Regions from separate parts of the Homo sapiens genome. Here region 1 is linked to region 2. The links come from fine-mapping of genetic effects on plasma protein levels. A gene starts in region 2. The other region holds a variant in brackets. All regions are shown on one strand. Distances are between the middles of the regions. Region 1 has its middle 37 kb from the start of SPP1. Region 2 holds the start of SPP1 (secreted phosphoprotein 1).

Evidence for each region. PIP is the chance, under the fine-mapping model, that this variant and not a neighbour inherited with it causes the effect. The UK Biobank Pharma Proteomics Project read protein levels with antibody pairs (Olink). The fine-mapping took linkage between variants from a reference panel, not from the people measured, so its PIPs are less certain.
Region 1: its variant is fine-mapped to the plasma level of the SPP1 protein (UK Biobank, PIP 0.97).

What each region holds. Positions count from the first base shown.
Region 1 is chr4:87,930,152-87,946,819 of GRCh38, reverse strand. No RefSeq gene overlaps it. Among named protein-coding and RNA genes, the nearest start is that of SPP1, 37 kb to the left of the region's middle. RefSeq lists an enhancer at 10,168-10,989. The variant A/G (reference allele first, on the strand shown) is at 9,087.
Region 2 is chr4:87,961,463-87,976,499 of GRCh38, reverse strand. It overlaps SPP1 (secreted phosphoprotein 1), which reads right to left and starts at 786. Exons shown (of 7, transcript NM_001040058.2): 1 at 700-786. It overlaps LOC124900730 (a long non-coding RNA gene), which reads left to right and starts at 2,731. Exons shown (of 2, transcript XR_007058172.1): 1 at 2,731-2,861. RefSeq lists cis regulatory regions at 791-800, 835-844, 1,019-1,034, 1,472-1,480, 1,547-1,555 and 1 more, enhancers at 813-883, 646-1,145, 1,508-1,528 and promoters at 700-913, 703-1,790, 790-3,032.

The sequences.
Region 1 (16,668 bases), 30 kb after region 2:
GAAGTGTGAAATAACAGAGTAAATAACATCATACTGAGCAAATCTTAAGTTTGCTCACAGAAAAACACTAAAATGTGAAATATCTTTAGTTCTGGAAGGATTTAGGGTTCTCAAAAGCGCAGGCCTTCTGCAGAACACCCATTTCACCCACATATCAGTCTACTGAAGTCTGCTGTTCCTCAGCAAAGTTTTCTCCTCAGAAGGGGATGATTGTTTAGTTCTATTTTATAAAGAAGTTTGAGGCCAGGCGCGGTGGCTCACGCTCGTAATCCCAGCACTTTGGGAGGCCGAGGCGGGCGGATCACAAGGTCAGGACCTCAAGACCGTCCTGGCTAACATGGTGAAACCCCGTCTCTACTAAAAATACAAAAAGTTAGCCGGGCGTGGTGGCGGGCGCCTGTAGTCCCAGCTACTCGGGACGCTGAGGCAGAAGAATGGCGTGAACCCGGGAGGGGGAGCTTGCAGTGAGCTGAGATCGGGCCACTGCACTCCAGCCTGGGCGACAGAGCAAGACTCCGTCTCAAAAAAAAAAAGCAAAGCTTGAAGCTTATGTGCTAATTACTACTGAACACTTTTAAATATTCAAAAATTAATAACGGTTACTCTAAATGAGAATTTAAAATGCCAGTTAGGCATGTTACCATGCTGCCCAACAACTCCCTCAGGCTTTCCACATATTATACCACTCCCATTAGACGTGGGTGAGTGCCATTCGTCTTCGTCCCCATAGCTTCACTCCCTGGTAGGGTATGGGAATGTTCAGAATTCTGCCACACATATAAGCAACTATTAGCAAACAGATATAAAAGCACTTATTCAATCTCGTTCAGTCCTTTGTCCTTTTGTCATTCCACAAGATCCACTTTAAGGCAGCCTTGTCAATATTTCAGTGTAGGATGAGCCAATCATCTACTAGGATCCGGTAAACAGCCTTGTATGAAATGTAAGTGTGTGTATGTGTGTGCACTTAGGACAGAAGGGGATGGGGTGGGGTTGGGAGACGCAGGCCTGATGAACAGAACTTCAGAGCCACAGCCATGTCCTGTTGAGCCTGCCAGATTTTTACACCTTTTTCCTGCAAGGAAAAGAGTGTTTATATAGACTTTCTAGCCAATTATATTTATTAAATACTACTAATCACAGCAATGTAAGGTTATTTCTAATATCCCTGATGCTATTTTTTAAACGTTTTGGTGAAGATTTAGATGGGGAAATTTGAAGCACTTGCTAAAAGCAACTCTCAAATGTGTACTGCTGATTATGGTTTTCCAAACACTTACTGTGCCTGTGTGTGAATTACTGCTTAGAATATTACAAATATTAGCTAACTGCACCCAGGGTGGTGATTAAAGTTCACACACACACACACACACACACACACTTAACTCATTCTGCTTTGGTGAAATATTGTAAACTGTTTTTCCGACAATTTGACAGCATCACATGCACAAGGTGAAACCAAATCTTTTCTTTGACCTTTAAGTCGCTACATAATCCGTCCCCATGTTATGCTCTCACCTCATGTACACTCTTCCTCTAACGCACCCCACTCCAATCATATGTATGTCTTTCCTATTTCTCCAACCTGCTTGGGCTCCACGTGCCACATCACCTGTGCTTCTGTGGTCCGTTCTGCCTGGAATATTCCCTCGGATGGTCACGTGACTGGTTCCTTCACCTCACTCAAGTGTCTTCACAGATGCTACTTCCTCAAGAAGGCTTTCCCCATCATCTTCGTACTTCTCAGTCTTTATTATTTTGTCTCTGTTTCTTCATAGAATTTATCCTTACTTGGCATTTTGTAAGACAGTAATTAATTAGTTAGTTAATTTTTTTGCCTGTCTCTACCACTAGGATGTGAGGCCTATGTTGGTAGAAAATTTTCTCCTTGGTTCACTGCTTTATCACTAGTGCCTGGAGCATGACGGGCCCTCAAAAGCTTTCTTAAATGGATGGATTGAGTAGTATTCATCCAAACTCTATCTTATATTCTGTTGTGTTATAGCTTTCTTTTTAAAATTGTATATATTTTAAATGTACAACATGGTGTTTTGATTTGTGTATGTTACAGCTTTCTTAATTCATTGAATTTTGATAGGTAACATTTGAGTAATTCTTTGAGATGCAATCCATAGTGCAAAGTCGGCTGGTGCATTCTGGGCAGTAACACAAAGGCTGGCTCTTGGTAGCTAGTGCTGAAACCAGGGCTGGTGCCCATGACATTTGTTTATCCATTTTGTTCATTTGTTTATAAAACAAAACTCTGAAACATGATGTGTCAGGAACTGTGGTAGCTCAATAGTAAGGTATAAGGAAACTCTGCCCTCATCAAGAATAAAGTCTATCAGGGAAGAAAGACAATTAAACAAGCAATTAAAATCAATCATGGTAGTGCTATTGTGAGATAAATACAGGATGCTATGCAACAGGGATAGGAGGAAGAGGTAGCATCTGCCAGTTTATGGGAGCTGACTGTTAAATTTCTGGGAATTTTGCGAGCTCATTTTAAACACAGACATTATTAAAAATTGTTATGTAAACTTATAATTAGATAAATTATATCAAAAATAAATTAGATAAATTATACTAAAAAGCAAAGGTAATAAATGCCCCATCATTTCCTGATGATCTTGTTGCTGAGGTTCTTTATGGCTGTCGTTGTGTGGTGGAATTGTTCTTAATGCTGGCTACCGCACACATTTCCCTAACTCTTCATTCAATGACATCATGTTGGTAGCTCAAGATAAACCATGGCGTGAGTATTCACACCATGGAAATTGCTGCAGATCAGGGTTTTTTCCTTCAAAGAGCCAGTTATAGACATTTACCAGCATGCCATTGCTCTCAGAGCACACAGCACAACACCTAACCTCACCTGGGGACATCAGACAACGAACCTGAAAGGGGAAGCAGGAGTTAACCAGGTGAAAGCTGCATGGATGATAGAGAGTATCCCCTCCAACATCAAGGCCAAACAGGTGAGATAGCTCTTATTTGCATTCAGCACACCATCATTCTGCCTCTGTATGCCTTTTTTCTTCAGGTTACTCTTCCAAAAATACATACTCCATGTATATATATGGATGTATAATTTATCAATATATATAGCTAACACTATGAACCTTCATTAAATTTCTTTTCTGTTCATTTAGGACAATATTTAATTAAAGCCATGATAGAAGTGCCCCAACAGGCCATATTTCACCTTGTTTACTCAGCTTCATTGTTTTTTCCTTTAAAATAATCAAGGTTTTATTAACTATAAATTGGAATATTGTGTTTATAACTTGTGAGATAAGAAGAGAAAGAATGTCTGTACTGAAATTTGACATTTATTTTTATCTTTTTTAAATTTAAAAAATTTTTATTATACTTTAAGTTCTGGGATACATGTGCAGAATATGCAGGTTTGTTACCTATAAGAGTTGTGTATTTCAAAAACTGAAATCTCATAAAAAGTTAAATTTTTGTCTGACAAAAAAAATTCTTTCCTTTAAGAATGTTGAATAATGGCCCCCACTCTCTTCTGGCTTGTAGGGCTTCTGCAGAGAGATCTGCTGTTAGTCTGATGGGCTTCCCTTTGTGGGTAACCCGACCTTTCTCTCTGGCTGCCCTTAACATTGTTTCCTTCATTTCAACCTTGGTGAATCTGACGATTTTGTGTCTTGGGGTTGCTCTTCTCGAGGAGTATCTTTGCGATGTTCTGTGTATTTCCTGAATTTGAATGTTGGCCTGTCTTCCTAGGTTGGGGAAGTTCTCCTGGGTAATATCCTGAAGTGTGTTTTCCAACTTGGTTCCATTCTCCCATTACTTTCAGGAACACCAATCAAACATAGGTTTTGTCTTTTCATATAGTCCCATATTTCTTGGAGGTTTTGTTCATTGCTTGTCATTCTTTTTTCTCTAATCTTGTCTTCATGCTTTATTTCATTAAGTTGATATTCAATCTCTGATATCCTTTCTTCTGCTTGATCGATTTGGCTATTGATACTTGTGTATGCTTCATGACGTTCTCATGCTGTGTTTTTCAGCTCCATCAGGTCATTTATGTTCTTTTCTAAACTGGTTATTCTAGTTAGTAGTTCCTGTAACTTTTTATCAAGGTTCTTAACTTCCTTGCATTGAGTTAGAACATTCTCCTTTAGTTCAGAGGAGTTTGTTATTACCCACCTTCTGTAGCCTACTTCTGTCAATTCGTCAAACTCATCCTCTGCCCAGTTTTGTTCCCTTGCTGGCGAGGAGTTGTGAACCTTTGGAGGAGAAGAGGCATTCTGGTTTTGGAATTTTCAGCCTTTTTGCGCCGGTTTTTCCTCATCTTTGTGGATTTACCTACCTTTTTGGTCTTTGATGTTGGTGACCTTCGGATGGGGTTTTTGGGTGGGCATCCTGTTTGTTGATGTTGATGTTATTGCTTTCTGTTTGTTAATTTTCCTTCTAATAGTCAGGACCTTCTTCTGCAGGTCTGCTGGAATTTGCTAGAGGTCCACTCCAGCTCCAGACCCTGTTTGCCTAAGTATCACCAGCAGAGGCTGCAGAACAGCAAAGATTGCTGCCTGTTCCTTCCTCTGGAATCTTCTTCCCAGAGGGGCACCTGCCAGATGCCAGCTGGTGCTCTCCTGTATGAGATGTCTGTCGACCCCTGCTGGGAGGTGTCTCCCAGTCAGGAGGCATGGGGGTCAGGGACCCAGTTGAGGAGGCAGTCTGTCCCTTATCAGAGCTCCAGTGCTGTGGTGGGAGATTCATTGCTCTCTTCAGAGCCTGCAGGCAGGAACGTTTAAGTCTGCTGACGCCCACAGCCGCCCCTTCCCCCAGGTGTCTCAGTTTCTTTTTTATAGTAGTAGATTCAATAGCTTCTCTACTAATGCTTTTTATCATGCTGATTTTAGTTGTATCTTTCTATTTGCATTCAGGGCCTATAGAGTCCTTCACATTTTGGCTGAAGGAAAGAAAGAAAACACTTAGACCTTGATTTACTGAATCCTGGGAGAAATGACCTCCTATAGACTTGCTTATATGTAGCCCTAATGTTTTGGTATCCTAGAGGATAGGCCTGGACTATTGACTCATTGCAAAACCTGTAAATGTGTTAACAAACTCCTCTTTGAGCTATCCAGACTGGACCTCTAGGTTTTCTGGGAAACATCACAGAGAATATTGTTTTCACGTTTCTCTACCATTTATCTTCTGCAGAAACCACCAGAGTATCATATTCTTAAGGGTGTCTTTTTTTTATTTTTTTTTACCTTTTGAAAATCACAGATCTAGAAATGTAGTCAGCTTCTGCTGTCTGATGAACGAGCTCATGTTGATGGCAAAACCTTCACCTGTCATTTTGGTGAATGATGTATCCAGATCCTGTTACATCATTATGAGGCCACAAATGGAAAAGTAAAAACAAATGGGAGTACAGTAGAGAAACAATGTTTCCAGAGGCATTTAAAAAGCATTTCCAGTCTCTCTGTCTCTCTTTTTGTTTTTCTTTAAATCTTCTCCCAGAATGTACCATATAATGACATTGATGCCTGGTTTTCATTTTGTTTTTTAATAGAGGACATGGACCTTGTATAGTTTGTGGCCATGACCTTAACATTTTTGTATTTCCATGAGTATCTTGCAAGGCAATTTAGAAAAATAGAGGGATGGGTGCAGTGGTTCATGCCTGTAATCCCAGGACTTTGGGAGGCAGAAGCAGGAGGATTGCTTGAGCCCAAGAGTTTGAGGCCAGCCCGGGCAACATAGTGAGACTCCATTCCTACAAAAAAAGAAAAAGCCAGGTATGGTGGTGAGTGCTTGTAGTCCAAGCTACTTGGGAGGCTGAGGTGGGAGGATGGCTTGAGCCTGGGAAGTGGAGGCTGCAGTGAGCCGTGATCATTGCACTCCAGCCTGGGCAACAGAGCAAGACCCTGCCTCAAAAAAAATAGAAACCACTTTTTATAGAATTTCTTTTGGACAATTCTACACTTAAAAAATATGCTTGTGCTGTTTTCAGTGATCTGAAATAAGAATAATTCCCTAGGGATTTGTATCTTTTTTTTTTTTTTTTTTTTTTTTTTTTTTTTTTTTTTTTTAACTCCTAAGAAGAAAGTGTGGACAGGCAGACTTCAAGTGTAACATTCATGGAGTTAATTAAGTTGCCATTTATTTTGCTAACCAGAGAGGAACCACTGATTTTGTCAAAAAGATGAAACGCTTGAGTGTCTTCAAAAAATCTAATAAAACATAGCTTCCCACTTCATACTGAAGAGAATTGTCCTGATAGTTTTTTCTCCATTATGCAACTGGGAAGAGCCAAACAGAGAATATTTTCCTTGTGCTGGGGCTGGAATAATGAAGAAAGCCACAGACCTTGGGCAAATTACTCTACTTCTCTAAGAGTGTTGAAAATCTGTTTTAAATTAAGAACTGATGGAGTGAGCAGCACTATTTTTATAGCAAGAACGATTTAAAAAATGTTCCTTGTAAAAACATTACATGAAAATTTTAGTTTTAGTTTTTGTTAAAATAAGATTTTATTGACTTTCTACTAGAAGAATAGAAATAGGAAATTGCAAAAGGCATCAATTTCTCCTTTCAGTACAGTCTCCCAGAAGTAATCCTTTTTAACAATGTGTAATAAGTGATGTGTTGACATGACTGTTAAGACTATTATGAAAAGGCTAAAGAAAGAAGCATGAAAGCAAGATTGACAGAGTCATGCAGGGAAACAAAGGCTAGTTCCTGGCTCACTCTCCAAAGTGCACTCCTGAATGATCTTCCACAGGTTTAAACTCATTCTTAGATTATGGTTACCCTTCTGCTTTCTGGGTACTTTTATATCAAGGCTTCAAAGTGCTTTATAAATATACGCACCAGAAAAAAAAGTACTTTTAAGGGTCTTATTGGATGGATAAAGTAATTTGCCTTTGCTGTGGGCTGTCTAGACAGTGGCACATCCAAATGCAATGATTTTTTGTGGACTCTGGAGATTGCATAAGAACCAGCCTCTGTTTTTGGTCCATCCTGCTCACCACTAAAATGCGAATTGTCCAAGTTCTTTTGCACGGGCAACTTATGCTGAGCTCAGCCATCAGGACCTTCCCTGCGTGAGGTGAGGGTGCTTAGTGATTTTATTTCACATCCACATTGCCACTCCAATCAGAAGTTTGGCAGTTTCCAAGGGTGCTTCCCTGGACAGGACACAGAATTCTGCTTTTTATGGAAACTGCTACCTAAACATCCTATTAAACTCAGGGAATCCAACTCCCTCCTGGAGCAAGACCAGATCTCCTTTTGACCTCAAAGTCTCAAATACCCCACCAACCACTAATAGGACACTACTTTATTCCCACTCTAGCCCTGAAATCCACAAGTTATTAACACTTCTCTGAGCAAGAGTGCCCAGCATTCAGAAAAAATTAGCCAGGTGTTATTTTCATTTGACCAAACGACCTTCTCATTCCTTGGCTAATGAGTCCATATAACAGTGGGAAAAATTTTATTAATATATTATTTTGGGGGGACCATTTGTCAATGACTGTAGATTACCATAGATATAAGATGGTAATGCCACTTGCAGTTGATGTGGTATCTTCACTGAAACAGCAAAATAAAACATAGCCCTTGGCCCGTATGTAGTTACTGATCTAGCAAATGCTTTTTGACATCTCTATCAGCTAAGTTAATAAGAAGCAGTTTGTTTTCAAGTTGCAGGGATAGCAGGATACTTTACTGACTTCCCTAAGGGCTATCTACATCAACTCACCCATTTCTCTTATAATGTGCTTTGGAGGGAACAGAACTTTATGCTAGTCCATTACTTTTATGAAATTATGCCAACTGGACTGTATGAGCAGGAACTATCAAGAACCTATATGCCTTAAGTAAGACACATGAATGCTAGAGGGTGCTAGAGGACCTGCCACATAGGCAAAGTTATTAGGTATCCAGTCATCTTGTTTGGGTACTTTGGGGTATCCCTACTAAAGTGAGATATCAGTTTCTGCATCTTGCCTGGTTCACTGCAAGGAAGGAGGCACAGCATTTTGTAAGCATCTTTGGATTTGGGAGGCTTCATATACCACATATGGGGATGCTGCTCCTAATATTTGCTGGAAAATCTGTCAGGCTGCCAGTTTTGAGTAGGGTCACACCAAGAAAAGCACAAAAGGCTCTTCAGCAAGTCTAGGCTGCTTCACTCTTATGATCTGTTAGACTCAAGGCACTAAACATTAGCTTCAGACAGAGATGTTATAGAGAGCTTCTGGCAGGCTTACAGGGCGAGACTCTCAGGTGTTTAGAATAAGACTTGGCCTCTTCTGACAACTATTCTTGACTTGAAAAACACCTTTTAGTTTGCTGCTGGGTGAGTCAAAGACTGAACACCTGACTTGAAAATAATAAAATATGCGTCATAAATTTAGACATGCACATATCATTCCAGTGTAAAATGAAAATGTTATATATGAGACAGGGCCAAGAAGGGTCTGGAGGCACAAATAAACTGCGTGAGTGAGTGGCTCAGACTTCCATGGTAGCTGCTGTTACTACTCTCTTGCTTTTCCCTTGGACAACTGCTCCAATTCGTTGAGGGAATTCTCTATGACCAGCTGAAGGAGAAGAAAGAATGGGCCTGGCTTATGGATGGATGGCATGTGGACCTCTAAGAGAAATGGATAGCTACTGCATTACAGCCCCACATGGGTGGCACTGAAAGATAGTGAGGAAAGAAAATGTTCTCAGGAGGCAGAATTTTGGGCAGTCTTTTGGGTGTCTATTTAATGTGGAAGGGGAGATAGCACAAAGGGTGAATTGGCCAGTGGTTAAGGAACTGGAAAGAACAAAATAAGAAGAGTGGTGACAAGGTCTGGGGAGATGTCTGTGATGGGCCTCTCAGCATGGGCACAGAGTGGGAAGATATTTGTATCCCATGTAAATGCCCATTAGAGGGCATCCAAGTGGTGAATGAGTGCTTTGAATAATTAAATGGATAAGATGATCTCTCTTAGGGATGTCAGTCTGCCTAATTCCCTAGCCATTTGTATGATTTGTCAATGGTGGTATACAAAATGAACATGGTGGCAGGAATGGAGGCTATGCATGGTCTCACC[A/G]ATATGAGCTCAGTTTCACCATGACTGATTTGTCTACACCGTCACTGAGTATTCAATCTGCCTATAGCAATATGTACCTGAAATATGACACCATTCATGATATTCAGGTAAGTCTCCTGTGGAATGGCATATGTAGACTCATTTATGGAACCATATGGAGACAAATCTTGTGAGGACAAGGTGTTACAGTGTTCCATCTGCTATTCTACTACTCCTCAGGGATTATTCAGGCCCCCTCCTTTCCCTACACATCAAGCTCGAGGATTTGCCCCACCCAGGACTGACAAATTAGCTTTACTCAACATGTCCCGAGTCAGATAACTGAAATACCTCTTAGTCTAGGTAGATACTTTCACTGGATAGGTAGAGGCCTTTCCTACAGGGTCTGAGAAGGCCACCGCAGTCATTTCTTCCGTTCTGTCAGACATAATTCCTCAGTTTAGCCTTCCCACCTCAATACAGTCTGATAACAGACGAGCCTTTATTAGTCAAATCAGCCAAGCAGTTTTTCAGGCTCTTAGTATTCAGTGAAACCTTTATATCCCTTACGGTCCTCCGTCTTCAAGAAAAGTAGAATGGACTAAAGGTCTTTTAAAAACACACCTCACCAAGCTCAGCCACCAACTTAAAAAGGACTGGACAATACTTTTACCACTTTCCCTTCTCAGAATTCAGGCCTGTCCTCGGAATGCTACAGGATACAGCCCATTTAAGCTCCTGTATAGACGCTCCTTTTTATTAGGCCCCAGTCTCATTCCAGACACCAGACCAACTTAGACTGTGGCCCAAAAAACTTGTCATCCCTACTATCTTCTGTCTAGTCATACTCCTATTCAGCGTTCTCAACTACTCATACATGCCCTGCTCTTGTTTACACTGCCGGTTTACACTGTTTCTCCAAGCCACCACAGCTGATATCTCCTGGTGCTATCCCCAAACTGCCACTCTTAACTCTTGAAGTAAATAAATAATCTTTGCTGGCAGGACTATGCTGAATCTCCTTAGGCACTCTCTAATCAGATGTCCTGAGTCATCCCAATTCTTAAACCTTTTATGCCTGTTTTTCTCCTTCTGTTATTCCATTTAGTTTTTCAATTCGCACAAAACCGTATCCAGGCCATCACCAATCATTCTATACGACAAATGTTTCTTCTAACATCCCCACAATATCACCCCTTACCACAAGGCCTCCCTTCAGCTTAATCTCTCCCACTCTAGGTTCCCACGCCACCCCTAATCCCGCTTGAAGCAGCCCTGAGAAACATCGCCCATTCTCTCTCCATACCACCCCCCAAAAATTTTCGCTGCCCCAACACTTCGACACTATTTTGTTTTATTTTTCTTATTAATATAAGAAGGCAGGAATGTCAGGCCTCTGAGCCCAAGCCAAGCCATCGCATCCCCTGTGACTTGCACCTATACGCCCAGATGGCCTGAAGTAACTGAAGAATCACAAAAGAAGTGAATATGCCCTGCCCCACCTTAACTGATGACATTCCACCACAAAAGAAGTGTAAATGGCCGGTCCTTGCCTTAAGTGATGACATTACCTGTGAAAGTCCTTTTCCTGGCTCATCCTGGCTCGAAAACACCGCCACTGAGCACCTTGCGACCCCCACTCCTGCCCGCCAGAGAACAACCCCCCTTTGACTGTAATTTTCCTTTACCTACCCAAATCCTGTAAAACGGCCCCACCCCTATCTCCCTTCACTGACTCTCTTTTCGGACTCAGCCCACCTGCACCCAGGTGATTAAAAGCTTTATTGCTCACACAAAGCCTGTTTGGTGGTCTCTTCACACGGATGTGCATGAAACCTTAGTACCTTGAATCAAAAGCCACTGGCCTTGTTCAAATCCTAAGAATCCCTTCTGAATCTTTGTGCGCACAGTTACGGCTTCAACAAAATGAGAAACTGACATTTAATCTGACATTTATTCATTCATTCAACAAATATTTGTTGAACACTTGCCATTGTTACCAATGGCAGGTATCTGAGTTACCAGCGGTGAATCCAAACTGTAACACTATGAGCCAGGAATTGTTTTAGGTAGTTGTTATGCATCTGTGAACAAACAAAAAGATTCCTGCCCTCCTGGGGCATATTGAAATATAGAAAGTGAGTATGATATGAAAAGACTTTAGAGAACTCTGGAAATACCATGAATTAATGCCATGAATTGATGAGTTAGTAGAATCCAACATAACTGAAATATGAAATCTAAAAACTAATATATCTAATAATTTATAGGTCTGAACCTAAAAATCTATTAAGATATTTTTGAGGTAGGAATTTACTCTATGTTACTGCCACTTAAGGAGCTGCCAATAATTCTCACAAATAATCAAAAGAATCAATCTTTCCTGTCCATCTAATTCTCCAGAGCTTATTGAGATTCTGCAAAGGAAAAAAATAACTCTGGCTTCCCATGGAAATGCAAATTCATGGGACCCTCCCTGCCCTTTCCATTAATGGGCAGCCCAGGTGATTCTTAAGTAGAGGACCCTGAGAATCAAACTTTGAAAATTCAAATTGCTGCTTTTCTCTTAGCTAATGACCTATATTAAATTACATTTACTACAGGGAAGGCAGAGTTGCCTTTTGCTCAGGTGTGTCAGCCAGCGGTTAGTTTTTTGTCTTGAAATGCAAACGTTTTACAGCACTTTTTTTCAAGTATGTGTGGTACCCATTCTCAATCCCTGATGCTAGGAAGGAGATGGATTTCTATTCAATTAGTTTTTAAAGGATATTCTGAAAGAAATGGAGCCTTACTCTTGAGAGGAAGGAAGTATGAAGGGGATTGATAGAGTTGTTCTCTATTTTATTTTGCATCTACAATGTAATTACAACTGCCTTTAAGAAGTGACTTCTTAGTCTGATAAATGCAATAACAACTTGATGACTGAGAAAGTGACTCAATAAATTACTGAAAATCTATCACATTACTTTGCAAACAGACAAAATAGTCAAACAAAAATCAAATTATTACTCTGAGATTTTTTTCATGGGTGTGTTTGATAGTTATACTTGTGTTTCTCTTAATTTTAACTGATGGTCTATGCTAAATTAGAAAAAATTAAATATTATATAGACACTTCTTGAATAATAGGGGTTTTCATTAGGCAGTTTGGTTTTAAAATGTTCAAATTTTTCTAAGAGTGCACTTGGTTATACACCAAGCTTGTTCAACCTGTGGCCTGCAGGCTGTATGTGACCCAGGACGGCTTAGAATGTGGCTCAACACAAATTCGTAAACTTTCTTAAAACATTATGAGATTTTTTTTGTGATTTTTTTTTTTTTTAGCTCATCAGCTATCATTAGTGTTAGTGTGTTTTATGTGTGGCCCAAGACAACTCTTCTTTCAGTGTGGCCCAGGGAAGCTAAAAGATTGGACATCTCTGTTATACACAATTGTGATCAGAAGTAAGCACCACTCAAGAATGAAATGAAAGTTGTTTTGCATATGACAGGAAATATTTTATTTTATACCAAGTGGATATCCTAGAAAAAAATGGATAAATTACTAGAAAAATGCCATCTACCAAGATTTAATCATGAAATAAAAAGTCTGAACAAACCTATAACCAGTAAGGAGACTGAATCAGTAATCAAAAACCTCCCAGAAAAGAAAAGACAAGGACCAGATGGTTTCATTGGAAAATTCTACCAAATATTTAAAGAAAGGTTAACACCAATCCTTCTCAAGCTCTTCCAGAAAATTAAAGAGGAGGCAAAACCCAATCTTATTCTCTGAGCCCAAAATTAACCTGATAGCAAAGCCAGATCAATCTGCTATGAGAAAAGAATACTATGAGGTTCAATATCCATGATAAATATTAATGCAAAAATTCTGAATAAAATTCTAGCAGAGTTCAAATGTACCTTAAAAGGATTACACACCATGACTAAGTGGGTTTTATCTCTAAGAGGCAAGGGTTATTCAACATATAAAAACCAATCAGTGTAATAAACCACATTAACAGAAGAAAGGATAAAAATTACATAATCATCTCAATTGACACAAAAAGCATTTGACAAAATTTTAATGCCTTTTTATTATAAAAACACTCAACAAACTAGAAATAGAGATACTTTACCTCAACAAAATAAAGGCCATATATGAAAAGCCCACAGCTAGCATCATACTCAATAATGAAAGACTGAAAGCTTTTCATATAAGAGATCAGGAACAAGGCAAGAATGTCCACTCTCTCCACTTCTATTCAACATAGTACTGGCAGTCCTAGCAATTAGGCAAAAACAATTAGGAAAGAAAAAGAAATACAAGGTATCTAAATTGAAAAGGAAGAAATAAAATTATCTGTTCGCAGATGACATTGTTACTGGAAAAGGATCCTGATCCAGAACCCAGGAAAGGGTTCTTGGACCTTGCACAAGAAAGAATTTGGGGCGAGTTCAAAGAGTAAAGTGAAAGTAAGTTTATTAAAAACCTAAAGAAACAAAAGAATGGCTACTCCATAGGCAGAGCAGCAGTATGGGTTGCTCAACTGGATATATTTATAGTTATTTCTTGATTTTATGCTAAACAAGGGGTGGATTATTCGTGAGTTTTCTGGGAAAGGGACAGAGATTTCTCAGAACTGAGGGTCCCTCCTGTTTTTAAACTATAGAGGGTAACTTCCAGTCATTGCCATGGCATTTGTGAACTGTCATGGCGCTGGTGGGAGTGCCTTTTAATATGCTAATACATTATAATTGGCATATAATGAGCAGTGAGGACGTTTAGAGGTCACGTTCATCATCATCTTGGTTTTGGTGAGTTTTGGCCAGCTTCTTTACCTCATCCTGTTTTATCAGCAAGGTCTTTGTAACTTGTATCTTGTGCTGACCTCCTTTCTCATCCTGTGACTAAGAATGCTTAATCTCCTGGGAACACAGCCCAGTAGGTCTCAGTCTTATTTTACCCACCCCCTATTCAAGATGGAGTCACTCTAGTTCGAACGCCTCTGACCATATTTGTAGAGACCTGTAAGAACTCCACAAAAAAAGCTGTTTAAGCTAATAAATGAATTCAGCAAAGTTGCAAGATACAAAATCAACACACAAAAATCAGTTGCATTTCTATACATTAACAATGAACAACCTTAAAAGATAATTAAGAAAAAAATTCATTTATTATAGCATCAAAAATATATAATACTTAGGAATAAACTTATGCAAAGAGGTGAAAGACTTATACACTAAAAACTACACCACATTGCTGAAAGAAATTAAAGAAGACACAAATCAATGAAAAAACATCCTATTTTCACAGATTGCAAGACTTAATATTATTAAAATATGCAAACTATGTAAAGTAATCTACAGATTCGATGCCATCCCTATGAAATTTCAATGGAATTTTTAAAAATAAAAAATTCTCAAATTCATATGAAATCTCAAAAGAAGCCATATAGTCAAAACAATCCTAAGAGAAATGAGAAAACCAGAATCCTCACACTTCCTGATTACAAAACATATTCCAAAGCTACTGCAATCAAAACAGTATGGTATTGATGTAAAGACAGACATACAGACCAGTGGACCAGAATAGAGTCCAGAGATATATTTTCATGGGGATTGAACCATTTTGCATCACCACTAACAGTGCACAGGGGTTCCAATTTCTCCACATTCTTGCCAGCCCTTGTTATTTTCTGTTTTTGTTTTTTTTTTGTTTGTTTTTGTTGTTGTTTTTGTTTTTTAAATAGCAGCCATGCTAATAGGTATAAAGTGATATCTCACTGTGGCTTTGACATGCGTTTTCTAAATAATTAGTGATGTTGAACACCTTTTCATATGCTTTTTGGGCATTTGTATATCTTCTATGGAGAAATATGTATATAAGTCCTTTGCCAATTTTTTAAGTTGGGTTATTTTTGTTGTTAAGTTACAGGTGTTCTTCATATATTCTTGATATTGACTCCTTCCCAGATATATGATTTGCAAATATTTTATCCTATTCCATAAATTGTCTTTTCACTCTGTTGATTGCTTTCTTTGCTGTGCAGAAGCTTTTTAGTTTGATGTAGTTCCATTTGTCTATTTTTGCTTTCATTGCTTGTGCTTTTGGTGTCATAGCCAATAAATCATTGCCAAATTCAGCTTTGTAAAGATTCTTCCCTATTATTTTAGGAGTTTTAAAGTTTCAGATCTTTAATCCCATTTTGACTTCATTTTAAAATATGGTATAATGTAAGAGTCCAACTTCATTCTTTTGTACATAGATATTCAGTTTTCTCAATACCATTTGTTGAAGAAAATATTCTTTCCCCACTTTATAGTCTCAGTGCCCTTGTTGAAGATCACTTGACCAGTGGGTATAGAGTCAGTTTTGCAAGATGAAAAGTTCAAGAAACCTGTCAAAACAATGAGCTATAGTTAGCATTACTATGCTGTACACTTAAAAATGGTTGAGATAGTAAATTTTATGGTTTTTACCACATTAAAATAATGAAATAAAATATTGCCAGCACCACAGAAGTCCCTTGAAACTATCTTAATCAATCACTTACACCAGCCTCAAAGGTGATTATTATATCTAACATTATAATTTAATTTTGCCTGTTCTTGACATTTATATTAAAGGAAATTAATATTATGCTTTGAGATATATCTATGTTGTAGCATGTAGCTGTAGTTTATTCTTTTCTATTGCTACATGGTATTCCATTCTACTGTTGATGCCTATTTTAGTCATTTCCACTCTAGGTCTATTATAAATAATGCTGCTTTAAACATTCTTGTATATTTCTCTTGTTTCACATGTGCACATATTTCTATTAAGTACATACCAATGAGCAGAATAGCTAAAAATGGCATAAATAGGGTGACCATCTAACTTGCTTTCTCCAGCAATAGCACCTCTCCGTGCCAATTATCCCAGCATTTTAGCAAGTTTAGCCTGTGTCCTTGTCCTTCCCTCCCTCCCTCCCTTCCTCTCTCCTTTCCTCCCTCCCTCCCTCCTTTCCTCTCTCCCTCCTCCCTTCCTTCCTTGACTTTATTCTTGTGCCCTTTACATTCTAGTTGAAGTCCCTTTTTTCTCATTGAAACACCTTTGTCACTCAACTTTTTATACCTTAAGTCTGCTTAATGACATAATTCATACTATAAGCAAATAGGCTACAAACTACAGCAGTGCAGGCTGCCCTGGCAGTAATGAGGCATCGATCAGACTCCTTTAGAAATTATCTGGATCTGGACAGAAGACATTTGCAATAGGCTTAAAAATGTTTCAACATTTCTACCAGAATAGTCAGAAATAATACACGGTTTGATGAGGGAAATAAAAACTTGGCAGACACATACTTGAAAGAAAGGAAAAGACTCACACCAGTTAGAATGGCAATCATTAAAAAGTCGGGAAACAACAGATGCTGGAGAGGATGTGGAGAAATAAGAACACTTTTACACTGTTGGGAGTGTAAATTAGTTCAACCATTGTGGAAGACAGTGTAGCGATTCCTCAAGGTTCTAGAACTAGAAATACCATTTGACCCAGCAATCCTATAACTGGATATACACCCAAATGATTTTAAATCATTCTACTATAAAGATACATGCACACATATGTTTATTGCGG
Region 2 (15,037 bases):
CTCACAGAAAAAAATGAAAAAAATTTGCTTTATCCATTTTTCCAACATGTACTTTAAATGTGACTTTTAGCTTAATTATCAAGTAGGTGCTACTTAGGTGAAATCAAACTATCTCTGAAATTTGTTATTTAAGTAAGATGTTCTAAAAATTTGAAATTCAAAGGAAAACATTGAAAATAGCCAACAGCTTTTCTATTTGTAATAATAAGCCTACACAGTGTCATACAGGTATCTTGGTGAATATTTTAACAGCTAAATTTAGCAGTGGCATATTCAGAAAGGGTTTTCTTCCCCTTAAAAGTGAGATACATCATTTAAAAAATAGCATTGTAATTGGTTTAATTAGCATAAAAGATCCCTTTTCTTTTAAATTCCTGCACAGTCACCCACTGAAAATTATATAGGTATAATTATTCCAAAGGGGAATTTAATTTTACTATTTTCTGATTAGCATCGGTGGTTTCCGTTCTTTTGAGGACCCAGTGGAAGTATTTTTAAGTTTTAAATTTGATTGGCATTCAAAATATCTAGACACCTTTGTTCCAGGAGACCTGCAATGTATCTAATCTGCTTATTAAAAAGGCTAGAAAATTTAAGTCTGTTTAACAGCATTACAATTAAAAATATTTTTCCTTAGAATTTGGACTTCCCCATGAAATTCAGCTGAATGCACAACCCAGTAGCAAACTGAAGCTGTACCTTGGTCGGCGTTTGGCTGAGAAGGCTGCAACTGGCCTGAGACGAGTCTGGTCCCGACGATGCTGTGCTCTGCCTCCTCCTGCTGCTGCTGACAACCAAGCCCTCCCAGAATTTAAATGCTGCTGCAGACATCCTCCACCAACACAGGGAGGCGGAGAGATTGTGTCATGAGGTTTTCTGCCACTGCCCAGCCCACCTGCTCCCACACTTCCCCCTCTGGTTTTGTGGTTAAAACAAAAAAAAACAAAAACGCACACACACAATCTACAGTTAAAACATTACTTATGTACAATATCATTAACTAGCTTTTTCATTTACGGGATGGGCATTCAGCATCCAGGAAGAGCACTTAGGGATCCCATGAAAAAGGGAGAAAGTAGGGAAAAACATTAATGTAAAATTAAATAGAATGGATTTTTGTTTCTTTCGGTTTAAGTAACATAAAGGTAATATCTGCAACCACTCTTGCCTGTATGATTGTACTTATTGAAGAGCCAGAAGGCTATTGTTCAAGCCTGCAAGGAGTTCAGAAAACTTGCCTCTGTCCTTTACTACTCAAGCTTAGCTTTGTGATTTCGAGTATGCAGTAGCTTGTTACTTAGACAAATGGCACTAGTGACATTAAAATATAAAATTCTATATGAAATAGAAGAATGGTAATTTATTCTAGATGTTGCAGAAGTAAAGCAGTTTCTGACTGAGAGCAGGATGACTGCTTGAGAGGGCTGCTTCAGGAGCCAGACCGTGGTTCTGAATTCCGCTGTGTCACTGCTGACCTGTGCAACCTTGGGCAAATCGCCCAGCCTACCTATCCTTGTTCCCTCATCCATGAAATGCAATACTATTACCTAGGTCATGGGGTTTTTGAGGGGTTTAAATGAATTAGTATGTTAAACTAGCAATGCTTAGCACATATTAGATGCAAATGCTCTGCGTATCTTAAGGACTATATGTGTGTTAACTATTATGAAATTTTTAAGAGGGGCAGGCAGTCACGAATTGTAATGTCCTTTAAAAGAACAGGTTATTAAAATGAGAGTAGACGTAAGATCTTTAAATTGTATGCATCAATAAGGAAATTTTGCACATTTCTAAAGGAACAGATTCGATTTTGGAATCATCTTTTTTTCTAGTTTTTCTCCCAAGGTATGTAAAGTAGGCCACTTAAAAAGAAAAACATTTTTAAAAATTTCTGTATTAAAAAACACTTTACTAGGTATTTAAAAGGTGTCTGAATGAAAGAAAATTACAGGGAAAGTCCGAATATTAGAGCAGAATTCAGGGATAGCAGAGCTCTGGGTCCTTTTAAAATATTTAATATTGCCTTGAGATTACTTATCTTCATTTGCTTTCTCAGTTGTGAAATGCAGATTGCACTATTTATTTACCTTACACCTTTATTGTTAAGACTTGTGTGTAATTGAGATGAAAAATAAATGGTCCTATTTATTATTAGGTTGCTGCAAAAGTAATTGTGGTTTTTATTAGTCCTAAAGTGTCAGCTTCCTTTTGCCAAATATTACTTTTAATATAAATATAGATTAAATAATGTCTTGCAGTGATAGTGTATAGCTAATTCATAGGTTTCATGAACATTTGGTAGGGGGAAATATGTCTCCCTTAAATTGGATGTATTCCAGATGAATTGATATGATTGGTTTGTAGGTAATAAGCACCCATTTTAATAAGTAAGATGACGACTATCTCTATAAAATAGAAAGCACACAGATTATAAAGTTGCAAAATAGACTTCTTTTTTCTGCTTCTAAAAACTATTTTTTTCCTTTAAACATACCCGCATAAGCGTGTCATGTTGTCAATTTAGTGGAGGGAAGTCTGAAAATTCTAAAAACAACAAAATTTCCACAGGATTTACTGTAGTTTACTCTGTGCCCACGGGAATGATTCAATATGAAGCTAGAATTAATTATAGGAATAGATTATGCTGGAGCCCAGCCATCTTGAGATGAACCATACGACCCTTTACAGGACTCTTCTGGTCATAGCTCCGCAGTGCCACACGATGGCAGCATTTCTGAAAAAAGATTTCAGACCACAATCTGGTTCTACCAATTTTCTTAATTCCAGCGGGATAGAACACTCCTGTATTTAATGACAGGACTATATACAGCTGTGGAGCTCTCCATTTCTTGGAATGCCAGGTGAGGAAATATTTCCCAACAATGACCCGCTATGCAATCAGGGACAGAGACCCAGAGAACCAAAGCGTTCTTGTTTTGCTCTGTTGTTGCCTTAGGCAATCCCAAGTTGACACTATTGTCTCCTTCCCGACTTCTACACTCATTCAAAAAGTTCCTAGTCCCAAGGCCTCTCTCAGAGAAAAGGCTTGTGAATTCACGGGTAAAGAATGTGTCTGGGATGCTTTGGAGTTGAGAAGATAAAGTGATTTATAATGGGAGGCAATTCTGTAAAGTAGGAAATGGATGCTGCGTCATTCTGACTATCGGGGAGGTCATGTTTTGGGATGTTTCTTGCTGTTTGCACTCAAACATGCTGCTGCTGGTTGTTTTTTCTGAGTAGGATTTTCTGTCAGAATTAACATGTTAAATGATTTAAATCACAGTGGCTCTATCTGTAATATTTCCAAAGTTTCCATTCTTGATTGGCTAATGATTGGTTGTTAGAATCAAAAGGTCAAAATGCACAAATTCCCTATAAATCTTGTGAGTGGAAAGTAAAAAAAGTTTAGTTGTCAAACTAGAATGCAAAGAGTAATTTGTGATCTTAAATTATACACACTAAGAGGACACATGGAAACAAATAAAGAGCCTTAAGGTCTTTTTCCTGAATTACATGAAAATTCCCATATAATAAAAAGTAAGTGTTCAATGTCACTACTTTGGTGGACAACTTTATTAAACTCACTTCCAGTTTATTTGAACATTTCTAATTATATTTTACTTAGTAAAGTGTAACCAACTATTTCAGTGTTTTCAGCTCCACAGGTAATTATTTTTTTCCCTTGAGTCAAGGTTCAGACATGACTCTGATATTTTGGTAACACCACTAATCTGTCATAAAGAAGTTTGGAATTAAAGCTAATCGGAAGCCTAGCACCATTCATCATATATAGACTGGGAAAAGGGGCATTATTTATCACAGGGTAGCAAGCAAAGGTGGATGATAAGAGGGTGCTATTTTCAAGTTCAGACATGAAATTAGAGCATTTCAGAAATACAAAAAAAAAAAAACAAAAACACCATAAACTCTTTTATTCCATTGCTCAATAGCTTAGACAACAAAAGTCAGCTCCTGACAAAGTGGTCGTACCATTGGTAAACATTAGTTTCAATTTAAAACAAATAAAAAAAAGTTTTCCTTTAGACACATAGAACTGTTATGGAGTAAGTGCTCAATAAATTGTTGGTGATTGCCCACTCAGCCCTGCATCTATGACACGAATTCTGACCTTATAGTTTTTGCTTATGAATACAATGCATAGGCACTATGCTTGAATTCAGAGTATATCTCATATATTGATATCTAATATCTGCCTGTACTCAAGAATCTAGCATTTATTTCTTCATTAAAGTAGTATTAGTAACTCTGAGGACATTCTAATGCTCTTTAAATGATAGACTTTTTTAAGGTAGACTTAAATTACTAACTTTTTTTTCTTAAATGACACCATTCTTACCCTCATGGAGCCCATTTGTTCATGAAAATCAACTAGGAAATTTGAAACTTGAGTAACCAATGAGATTAAGGGGGTGTGGCTAAACAGTAAACTTGGCAGCACCCTGGGTAGAGAAGGTATATGGTAGAGACCCTGTGTCCACATTGGAGTTGAAGGGATGGGTATTCTGGGATTGGATCCAAACAGAAAGTCCCCCTTCCCACTCAACATCAACCACAGCAGCATAAACTCGAGACCTATAACAACCTGGGGAACAATAGAGGAGGCTGTAATCAGAGAGGATCCAAAGAGGGAGATAGAACAAGGTGGAAAAGCACAAATAGAAAGTCTAGCAGCTGCAGGAGGACCTTGTTTGTTCAGAAAAAGACATTTTGTGGCAATAAGCGGTCAGTGACAGTCATTTTGCAGATATATTTGAGGGGAGAAAATCATTCTCCGAAATTGGTTTATGAGAATTCTTGCTTAAAATCTGATGTTTGAGTAATTTTTGGTAGAGAATCTATCATAAGGTTGATATGAAAAGGTGACAATTTCAGTGCAAAAGAGAAAACAAAATCAAAAGAAAGGGGAGTAAAACTAGACAACAAAAGCAGCTCAGTCAGATATTTTTCTGGTTACACTTGGCTAAGGTTTTTTGTTTCGACAATTCTTGTCAAGGCATAGTTTACATTAATGCCCCTATCCCATAGCATAACATTTATGTTTCTTAAACCTGTAATTTAAAATATTCTATATTAAAATTTGATTTCTTCTTTAATGTTTGAATTCCTCATAGAGTGTAAGTTCCATGATATGCTAATCCCTCTGCAGATTATGTGCCAAAAATATTTATTCAGTGAAGAAATTTAGCTCAATTATGACATGTATATAGTTCTTACATAAATTGAGTTATTCTTGCTGATTATTTTCTGTTGCCTTCATAAAGCCCCAGATTAAACATATTTATTTATTTTTGAGACAGTGTCTCACTCTGTCACCCAGGCTGAAGTGCAGTGGCACGATCTCGGCTCACTGCAACCTCTGCCTCCTGGGTTCAAGCGATTCTTGTGCCTCAGCCTTCCAAGTAGCTGGGATTACAGGCATGCACCACCATGCCCAGCTAATTTTTTTTTTTTTTTTTTTTTAGTAGAGATGAAATTTTATCATGTTGGCCAGGGTGGTCTCAAACTCCTGGCCTTGAGTGATTGGCCCACCTCAGCCTCCCAAAGTGCTGGGATTACAGGCATCAACCACCGCTCCCGGCCTCCTGAATTAAACGTCTTCAGATTCCAATATAGATAGTGTTCCGCTTGAGTGAATTACACCTGAGAACTTCAGGCATGCTTCCTGTGCCTAAAAAGGACTGCCCAGGTGATTGCTATTTCTTACATAACATGAGGTCCTCTGGGGTCTGGCATTCTTCTGTCTCTCCAGCCTTATTTCTGCCCAACTTCTCTCCTTGTACTCCCTAAAACAATCATGCAGAGCCATGTGGGTTCCCCAGTGTGTCATTCTATTTCAGGTCTCCATGCCTTTACTCACATTGCATGGTCCTTATATCTAGAATATCCCTCCAGTCTCATCCGCACCTGTCTCTGAAATATTTGCACATCATGCATCAAAGCATCCCCTATAAAACCTTTTCTGGTCTAAATAGAAATAACCAACTCCCACTTTTTAACTCCTTCTGCAGCCTGCACTTGATCTAGCATAGCACCGATGAAGCTTTATTGCCTTAAATGTTTGTCCTCCTCACGCTAAAAAGCAAACTCCCAGCAGTCAGGGACTGGGATTTATTCATGTTTGTATCCACAGTTTCCTGTTAGGTGCTCTGTAAATGTTTAGAGGAACAAGTGAATGAAGGAGCATTATTTTAATAATGTTTAATCCCATGGTAGCCCAGGTAGCATGTGAGTTTAGTATAAACTCCAAGAGGCTGGAGCTTCTACTGGGTTCTTAAAATAATTTATGTATACATTTTAAAAATGCCATTGCAGAATTTGAAGAGCCTAGATTTTCTTGTCTCCCATCTCAAATTCTTTTCTATGGGGTTCTGGCATATCCTTTCTCTTGTCTAGGTCTCAAGTTCCTTGATAGAGTTAATCTGGATTATTTTAGAGGTCCATTTCAGCTCTAAAATTTTGTGATTTATGTTTCCTTTTCAAGTTCATGAGGAATAAAATATTGACACTACAACAAGAGGAGTAAACAGATGGTAGAAGTAGAGATGCTCTTGAGAGAAGTTCACACTGAAGAAAGATTTTAACTCAAAGAGTCTTTAATAGACCAGGGGACAGGTGAAGTCGAAGAGTTATGATGTTTTTAAGTAAAATATCATGTGTTTTGCTATATTTTAAACTATAGATAAAAATTAATGAGCATTATTATAATACTACTAATAAAAATAAAACTTTTTTTTAAAAAAAGGAGGTAAATCAATCCCAACCTACAATTTTAATAAATCAATCTTTCATGTTCTGAGAATTTTTTATTCTTACCTCCCACAATATGGGTTTTCTAGAGGCATTTTCCCAGTATGGGTCACATGAATTTCTTTCAGATTTCATTACCCAGAGTAGGGGATTGAGGAGAAACTGACTGAAGAGATTGGCTTGCCTCTTTCCTGGAAAATGCCTCTTGTGGTTTTTGGGGGTAGTTTTATTGCCAAACAGGTCAGGCATATAGGGCTTCGCCATAATCTGGAGATGTTTTTAGATTTTTCTTTCCCGCATTCACATCTCCTTCATTTCCAAGCATCTGTGGATTTTATTAGTCTAGATAACCTATTAATTTCACTTTGTATCTAATGATATTGTTCACGAGTCATCCAGAATCAGTTTGCCCTCTTTTCAGCCATTTCATGCTTAACGCAATTTCTGCTGCTTGTTTTTTCCCTAAGAAACAAGGGAATTTTCTGGTAATTATTATGCCCTTAACATTTACTTTTTCTACAGTAACAAAGAGTGAGCCCAAAACTTCTGTCTTTGCCTTTTAAAAGGAGAGATATTCAAAATAATAACAACAATAATAACAACAATAATGGTAATTGTATATATATTTATGGGACACCTGTAAAGTACTAGATTTAAAAATATGCATTTTGTCTAATATTCATAACGATGACATAAGTTTGGTATTATGACCTCAATTTTTTCACATAACTATAATAGAAGCCATTTAATGTGCCGGTCACTTCTGTTTACCTGATTGCATTTACTCTTTGCATAAATATTAGGTGTATATTTACAGGGCCAGTAGGGTTCCAGGGAAGGAAGTGTTTAGTTCTACACATCAGTGTTAAGAAAAGCTTTCAAGAGGATGCTAAGATGCAGCTCAGTTGAGGAGCTAATATTTAGAGACAAACTTATTTATTTATTTATTTGAGACAAGATCTTGCTCAGTCACCCATGCTGGAGTGCAGTGGTGTGATCGCGGCTCACTGTAGCCTCGACCTCCCAGGCTCAGGCGCTCTTCCTGCCTTAGCCTTCCCAGTAGCTTAGACTATAGGTGTGCACCACCAGACCTGGCTGATTTTTAAATTTTTGTAGAGACGAGGTCTCCCTATGTTGCCCAGGCTGGTCTCAAACTCCTGGACTCAAAGATCCTCCTGCCTCAGCTCCCAAAATGCCTCCCAAAGTGGTCTTGGGGTTGAAAGCGCGAGCCCGCATGCCTGGCCCCAGAGACTAACTTCTAAGATGTGAATCAAAATTATAAGCATCCAAATTTGACCAAACTTGGTTAAAATGAAAAGAAAAAAACAAAAAACAAAAACAAAAACCCAAATAACCATACAACAAAAGCTGTAAGTTCCAATGATACCGAAGAGAGAAATTTTGTAAGGATTTTCAAAAATCTTGCCTCTAACAAGTTCAAATCTAAGAAGAACAAAAGCTTAATTTTTTCACATATGCCACCCAGCTAACGCCATGCTATGGTCATGAGCCATACAGTGTGGGAGAGTGTCAGTATGTCTCTGCTAATCTCAAACAGCTGTGAATCACCAGTTCAAAACACACACCTACTGATTATGGGTTAATATCATTAGCTTCATTCTTAATAGATACAATGATCTTAAATATTAGTTTTCTTGACTCTCTAAACTTTGAACAAATTGCTTATTGTATTTTAACAAGTATCATATTTCTACAGAAAGACATGTTTCATAGTTGGTCTTATGCCTTACCACATTTGAATTCTATGTAGCACCTACCATAATAATTGTGCAGGTACTGTTGGCTGTACACCAAAGATGTGTTGTCTTCAGAGTAGTTGCTGGGAAGCAGCTGCCCAGCTGAAACTACATTTCTCAGCCTCCCTTGCATTTAGATGTGGCCATATGTCTAGTTCTTGCTAAGGGAATGTAAAACAAAGTGATGTGTTTCCCTTCCAGGCGGAAGTGCCTAAAAACTTCAAAAAGCGTGCCTCCCCCATAGTCTTCTTCCTTACCCTTTCACCAGATGAAGAGGACTGAAGCATTTTGGATAGCAGAGCCCAGGGAGAACATGACTTGAGCTGTCTGCTGATCTGGAACCCTAGCATTAGATATCGTATTGTTACAGGATCTTTGGAGTGTTGCTTTTTTGGCCAGAAACATACAGCCGGTGGTGCCTTTGCCTCTGGCCCACTGGACTCATTCTGCCCACTCAGCCTGGCAGGCTGTGTTCAGCTCATGCTACTGGCCTGGATCCCATGCCTCCAAGGGATGCCGCGAGTCAGGCATGGAGTGGCAATGGGGTGTGAATGAGCATAGAGTCTGGCCACTGTGCAGTCAGACACGCCAGCTGCTGCTGCGGGGCAGGAAGCTCCAGGTGCCGACATGGGCGCCAGCTCTCTTCAAGGCTGTGGCTGGACCAGCGCCCCACAGGCAGCTGTCCTGGCTCATACTAGGGAATGTGGTGGTGCCCAGAGGCTCAGAGACACCAGGGACCACAGGGTCTCAAAAAGGGAGTCACAGCCCTAGCTCAGGGAGATCCCAGGTCTAGGCTCCCTGAAGGGCTGCAGCTCTTCTCTCCTCTTTGCCCACCAACAAAACGAGCAAGGGGCATATTTCAGCTCTGTTTGTGTTACAGCTCTTTTAGCATCACCATTCCACAAGTCCTGAGTTCTTGTCCTGTGACCAGGAAGAATGAGGTACATAGACAAGTGGAGGGTGAGGAAGACGAAGAGGAGTTTTATTGAGCAACAGAACACCTCAGGGAAGACTCACAGTGGGCAGCTCCTCTCCATAGCTAGGGTGTCCTGACGAGTGTTCAGCTCCTATCAGAGATATAGGCAGGTCATCCCGAAAAGTGTTCAGTTCTCAGCAGAGTGGGTATCTCCTCTCTGCTGCTGGCTGTCCCTTCATCTCTCCATCCTCTGCCCTGGTGTTGCTGAGCCCAGGGCATTTATGGACCTCAGAGGTGAAGAAGTGCACACCAATTGGTCCATGGGCAACCATGGGCAGGCCTGGAAAAGACACCACGAGTCTCCGCTCCAGTCTGTGGGACTGGCAGCCTGGCCCCCAGCCTTCAGGCTCTCCCTGGCCTGAAAATGGGGCCTCACCTGGACCTGCCCCCTTCTGCCCAGGAGCCGGTCTGCCTCCTGTGGCTGTCCATGGCACCCAGGCTGCTTGCACAAAGGGGCACTTGCAAGCCAGCACTGAGCTGCCCTCATCCTCACCTCCACTTCCCTCCCCGCAACACTCATCAGTGCCCAAAGTCTGGAGGAGGCCGAGGTGGCAGGGGGCTGGTGTGTCAGTGCTGTCCGGAGCATGCGCACAGCCAGCTGGGCTGTGACAGCTCTCCGGCTTGGCCCCAACCCCACTCCAAGATTGGAGTGGGTGCCAGGAGTGGGGAGAGACCAGGCAGCAGGAGCAGACAGGCCCCCTAGGGTGCAGACTGCACAGACTCCCAGGTCCTGCTCCTGGGAGGGCGGGGCTTTTGCCCACCCAGCTCACAGCCTTGTCTGAGGGGGACCCTTTGGGAGTGGATCAGGGCCTGGCCTGGCAGTTGAGAGTGTCAGGCCCGGTGATCACCTCAATGCGGGACGGAACCCCTGGACACAGCCCCAGTCAGCCCTGTGCAGAGCCTTCTCCTGACGTGCAGGAACTTGGCTTGGTGGGGTGGGTGCTGTCACTGCAAAAATTGGCTGGGTCCTGAAGCGGGCACTGCTCCCACTTCCAGCCATGGGGCCCTGAAGCACACCCCAGGTCAGCGCCTTGGCTCGGCCACCACGCTCTGTGTGCAAGCGTCACACTGCCCTGGACCCAGTTCTGCCTTGGGGACCCTCTCTGCCTGACAGCTGCTCCCCTGCCCATGGGCGACTTGGCCTGGCCCCATCGTGGTGGCCCCCAGGGCTGTGGGCTTCGGGGACTGTCTGCCTCTTCCACACATCCTCCCTGCAGCAGCAGAGGGTGACAGCAGCAACGCGGGGCCAGGGGCTGAGCTACGGAGGCTCTGGGCCTGGGGATAGGTCCTGCCCTGCAGTGCTAGGGTCCCGGTGGCGTAGTCGGCTGCCTCCCAGACATTGGACATAGGGCACAGGGGTACCCCCTCCCCCGCAACCCGCCACTACTGCTCCCACAGCCGCTCCTGCCACCACCGCTGGCGCCTCCCAGCTGCAGCTGGCAAGATGACAGCAACCGCTCCGGATGGCCCACCGTTGCCATCAGTATGAATGAGAAATAAGTTTCTATTGCCTTTAGTGCCTGACATCTGTTACGATAGCAGATGTTACCTTAATTAACACAATGCCATATGCATAATATTGCTCAGTTCATAGCTTTTGGATTTTATCGTCTGTGTTCCAGGTCACTAGACTCATGAAACGGAATTTAAGTTATGGTGCTATAACTTTATATGTATCTATTTTCTATTAATTTTTGCTCCCCCATTTCTAAAAGCCAGAATAAGTTCATGCGAGGTTACTAATATGTTAAAATTGAAGTTGATTATTTTATACAATAAGTATGTGACTAATTTTTTCCACAAGGAGATGGTATGCAATATCAGTAGATAAGTGATTAGGATAGCGGGCTTCTCTTGATCCTCTGTTTTTGTTTTTCCCACTTTTGCAAGAAGAGAATCAGCTGTGGTATAGGTTTTAGTGGATAGTGTCCCATGTTGGGAATCTGGGAACCTGAATTTTATCTTGCCTATACCACATAATTAAATATTGTTAAGTTGGCTTATTTCTGAGAAGAAAGAGGCTACAGCTGCCTTCCACTAAATGATAAATTCATCTCGCAACTTCTGAATCGTTCACACAGCATCATTTGCTTTTACTTCTTAGTTAGGCCACCTGTTTTTTGGATACCTTTTGCTTTTTGACCTTCTAACAAGTAGCCAGTGGCAGTTAGAGATCAAGTTAAATTGTCCAGGCTTGGTCCTCAAGTCTGTAATCCCAGCACTTTGATTGCTTGTGCTTAGGAGTTCAAGACCAGCCTGGTCAACATGGCAAAAACCCTGTCTCTATGAAAATAAATAAATAAATAAATAAATAAGAGATCAAGTTAAAATCAACCCATCTAGTTATATTTGAGAACTTAAAGTCATGTTCTCTGAAGGTTTTGAATGACTTCCGTTTACTAGTAAGGATGTGTTCACAGATTAATTTTAGTCTTAGTTGCCTCTCACCAGATCAAATATTGTGTGGGAGGTAAATTCTAGGAAACCTGAAGAATTTTAAAGCACTCTACCATCCTCATATGGAGATGACCATAATTAAAGGAAACAGTAGCTTATGTCAGAAACTGTTTATTGTTGGGAGCTGAAGCTTTGACCCTTTCCTGTATATTTATTTCACTGATATTCCTAAACCTTTGGTGGTCTTTTGGTCTGTGGGTCATAGCTGGGCTAAGGGGTTAGCCAGAGTTCTTAGTGAAGTAGCAAAAGAGGTTATGTGTGACATATCAGCAGAGTGGGTACACCCATTTGTCTGGGTTGGGGAGGAAGTGGAGGCTGGGATCAGTAAAGTGGCCTTTTTCTGTTTTTAGACAGTGCCAAAGCATCTCAGACTGGGGTTTCAGCTTTATTTTTGTTTACGAGGAGTTGGTTCAGACACAAGTGAAATTGTGGTGTCTTAACCTCTAGTAAGATTGAAAACATACATGTTGTTTCATCAAGCTTGGTCTCTTAGGAACCCGGTTTATCGTAGAGATGATGTTATTCTGAATTTAGAAGGAAAAGGGTGACAGAGTTTCATTACAAAGATTATAAAGATGATGATTACAAAGATTACAAACATTTTGTAATCGCTGACTAGAATATAAATGAGTATAAAAATTTTACTTTTTAAGAAGGATAGAAATCCTACATACAGTAAATCTATTTTTCTAAAACATGTTTTACTTCCACAGCAGTTTTATAAAATTGGCAGCTGACTTATTTTTTGTGGTCCTATCTTCTAGCCTGAGTGTTAACCAGGTGGACAGGCAGATTAGGATTAGGAAATAAGATCAATTAAACTTTTATCCTATAGTACCAGGTTTGAGCGGGTACATGGTTGTGTGTAGATCTTTCTTTCACACACAGGATTTGAGTGTTTTTTTTTTTTAACAAAAATTTATGAAACATAAAAGTATAGAGTAAACAGTTGAGGAATTTACTAAAAGAAAGCTAAGAATTCAGAAAGAATTCTAAAAGAAAGCTAAGTGTTGGAGTAAATATTGCACAAAATATAAAACATTTAGTTCTATACATTGGCATGTAAATGTTAATTTTAGTTGCTTTGAAACAACAAAATAAAAATATCAATTTCAGTTATGGTTTAAAAATACACATTGTATGTATCCATGCAGTTAACCAAAATGCATTTTTGAAAAAAAAGGGTGATAAGAATCCTAAAAGATAAAAATGAGACCTCTATTAAAAATAGTATTTCCTATCTAGCACTATGATTCCAGTCCTAGACTCTCCCAGCTGGAAGAGAGATGGTAGGAAGGCAGGGCATTGAGAAAAAAGGGGATGGTTCTTGACTTGTGGCTTCATTTCAGCTCTAAGACAACTTAAATTCTAAAAGTGCAGAAAATCACAAGGAATGAAGATTAGAGCAGATTTAGTTCAAATAAAAAAAGATGCCCTCAATGACAGTCAATTCCATGTATTCAGAAAGCAGTACTGGAATTGACATTATGAGGTGGGGAGGTGGGTTTCTTCTTGGCAGCTGGCTCTTTTCTGATGTGTTCAAGCTTCTAATCAGATGAAACTAGAAGACTTCAGCTGCTTGCATCATTTGTCTTTATCTTTCTAGATCAGGAGTTCAAAAGCCCTTTGCCCAAATCCATTCATAGATTATTTTTGTAAATGAAGTTTTATTGGAACATGGCCATACCCATTCATTTACGCGTCATTTATGTTGTAGCTTTAGTGCTGTAACAGTAAAGTTGCATAGTTGTGATAGAGACCATATGGCCTGCAAAGCCTAAAATATTTGCTCTCTGACAGAAAAAGTTTGCTCACCTCTATTCCAGATGAAATATCTTTTTAATTTTAGTCTATTCTTTAGCTCAAGTATATGAGTGAATCCTTCACCCTCATCCCTACCCTGTCATTTCTAGTTACATCAAGTCAGTTTTGAGGTGCAATGGACTGTGTTCGATATACTGTGTCAGATGCATGAGCATAGCTCTGAACCATTCAATACAATGCTTTCTCTTTTGTTTTCATGCATCCTGATAATGCCTTGCGTTATGGTCGGCATGGGTCACTGAATCAATGATATTAGGGATAAGTATTTAATGATCTTTTGATCCCTTTCTGGTAATAAGTAACAGTTCCTTTTACAAAATCTTGTACTTTGAATTTGTACCAGGTATAAATAATCCTACTTGCATTTGACATGTAACTTATCTGACACTTGTCTTTTACTTACCTGTTAATTTTTTTGCCTTTTCTTTACAGTCTCTTATGGATAGTTCTGTAGTTATCCCTGTTGTCCTCACTTTCTTTAAAAAAAAAATTTTTTTTTGAGACACGGTCTTGCTTAGTCATCCAGGCTGGAGTGCAGTGGCCCAGTCATGACTCACTGCTGCCTTGACCTCCTAGGCTCAAGAGATTCTCCCACCTCAGCTACCTGAGTAGCTGGAACTACAGGCCATGTGCCACCTTGCCCAGCTAATTTTTTTTTTTTTTTGGTAGAGATGAGGTCTGACTATGTTGCCCAGGCTGGTCTCATGTTCTCACTTTCACTAATCAAAGATCTTAGAATCATTTGTAAATCTTTGAATTGTAATAAGAATAATATCAGTATCTTTAATATGCATGGTCCTTTAAAAATTTGAAGTACTTTCAGATTGACTGTCTAAATTGATGCTTGTAACTGTGTTTGCTTCTGGGAAAGGGATCTGATTGGCTAGAGGAAAGAATGGGAGGGAAACAAATTTTCAGAGAAATAATTTTTATAGCTTTTAAATTTTGTATAATGTGTGCATTAGCTACCTATTGCTGAGTAGCAAATTACCACCAGTTTAACAGATTAAAGCAACACACATATATTATCTCAGAGTTTCTGTGGGTCAGGAATGCAGGCACAGCTTAACTACGTTCTCTGTATCAGAGTGTCTCACGAAGCTGGTATTAAAGTGTCAGTCAGGGTTCAGTCTCATTCAAAGGCTTGGTTGTGGAAGGATCTGCTTCCAAGCTTACATAGTTGTTGGCAGGATTCAGTTCCTTGAGGACTATTGGACTGAGGGCCTCAGTTCCCACTTATCTGTTTGCTGGAGGC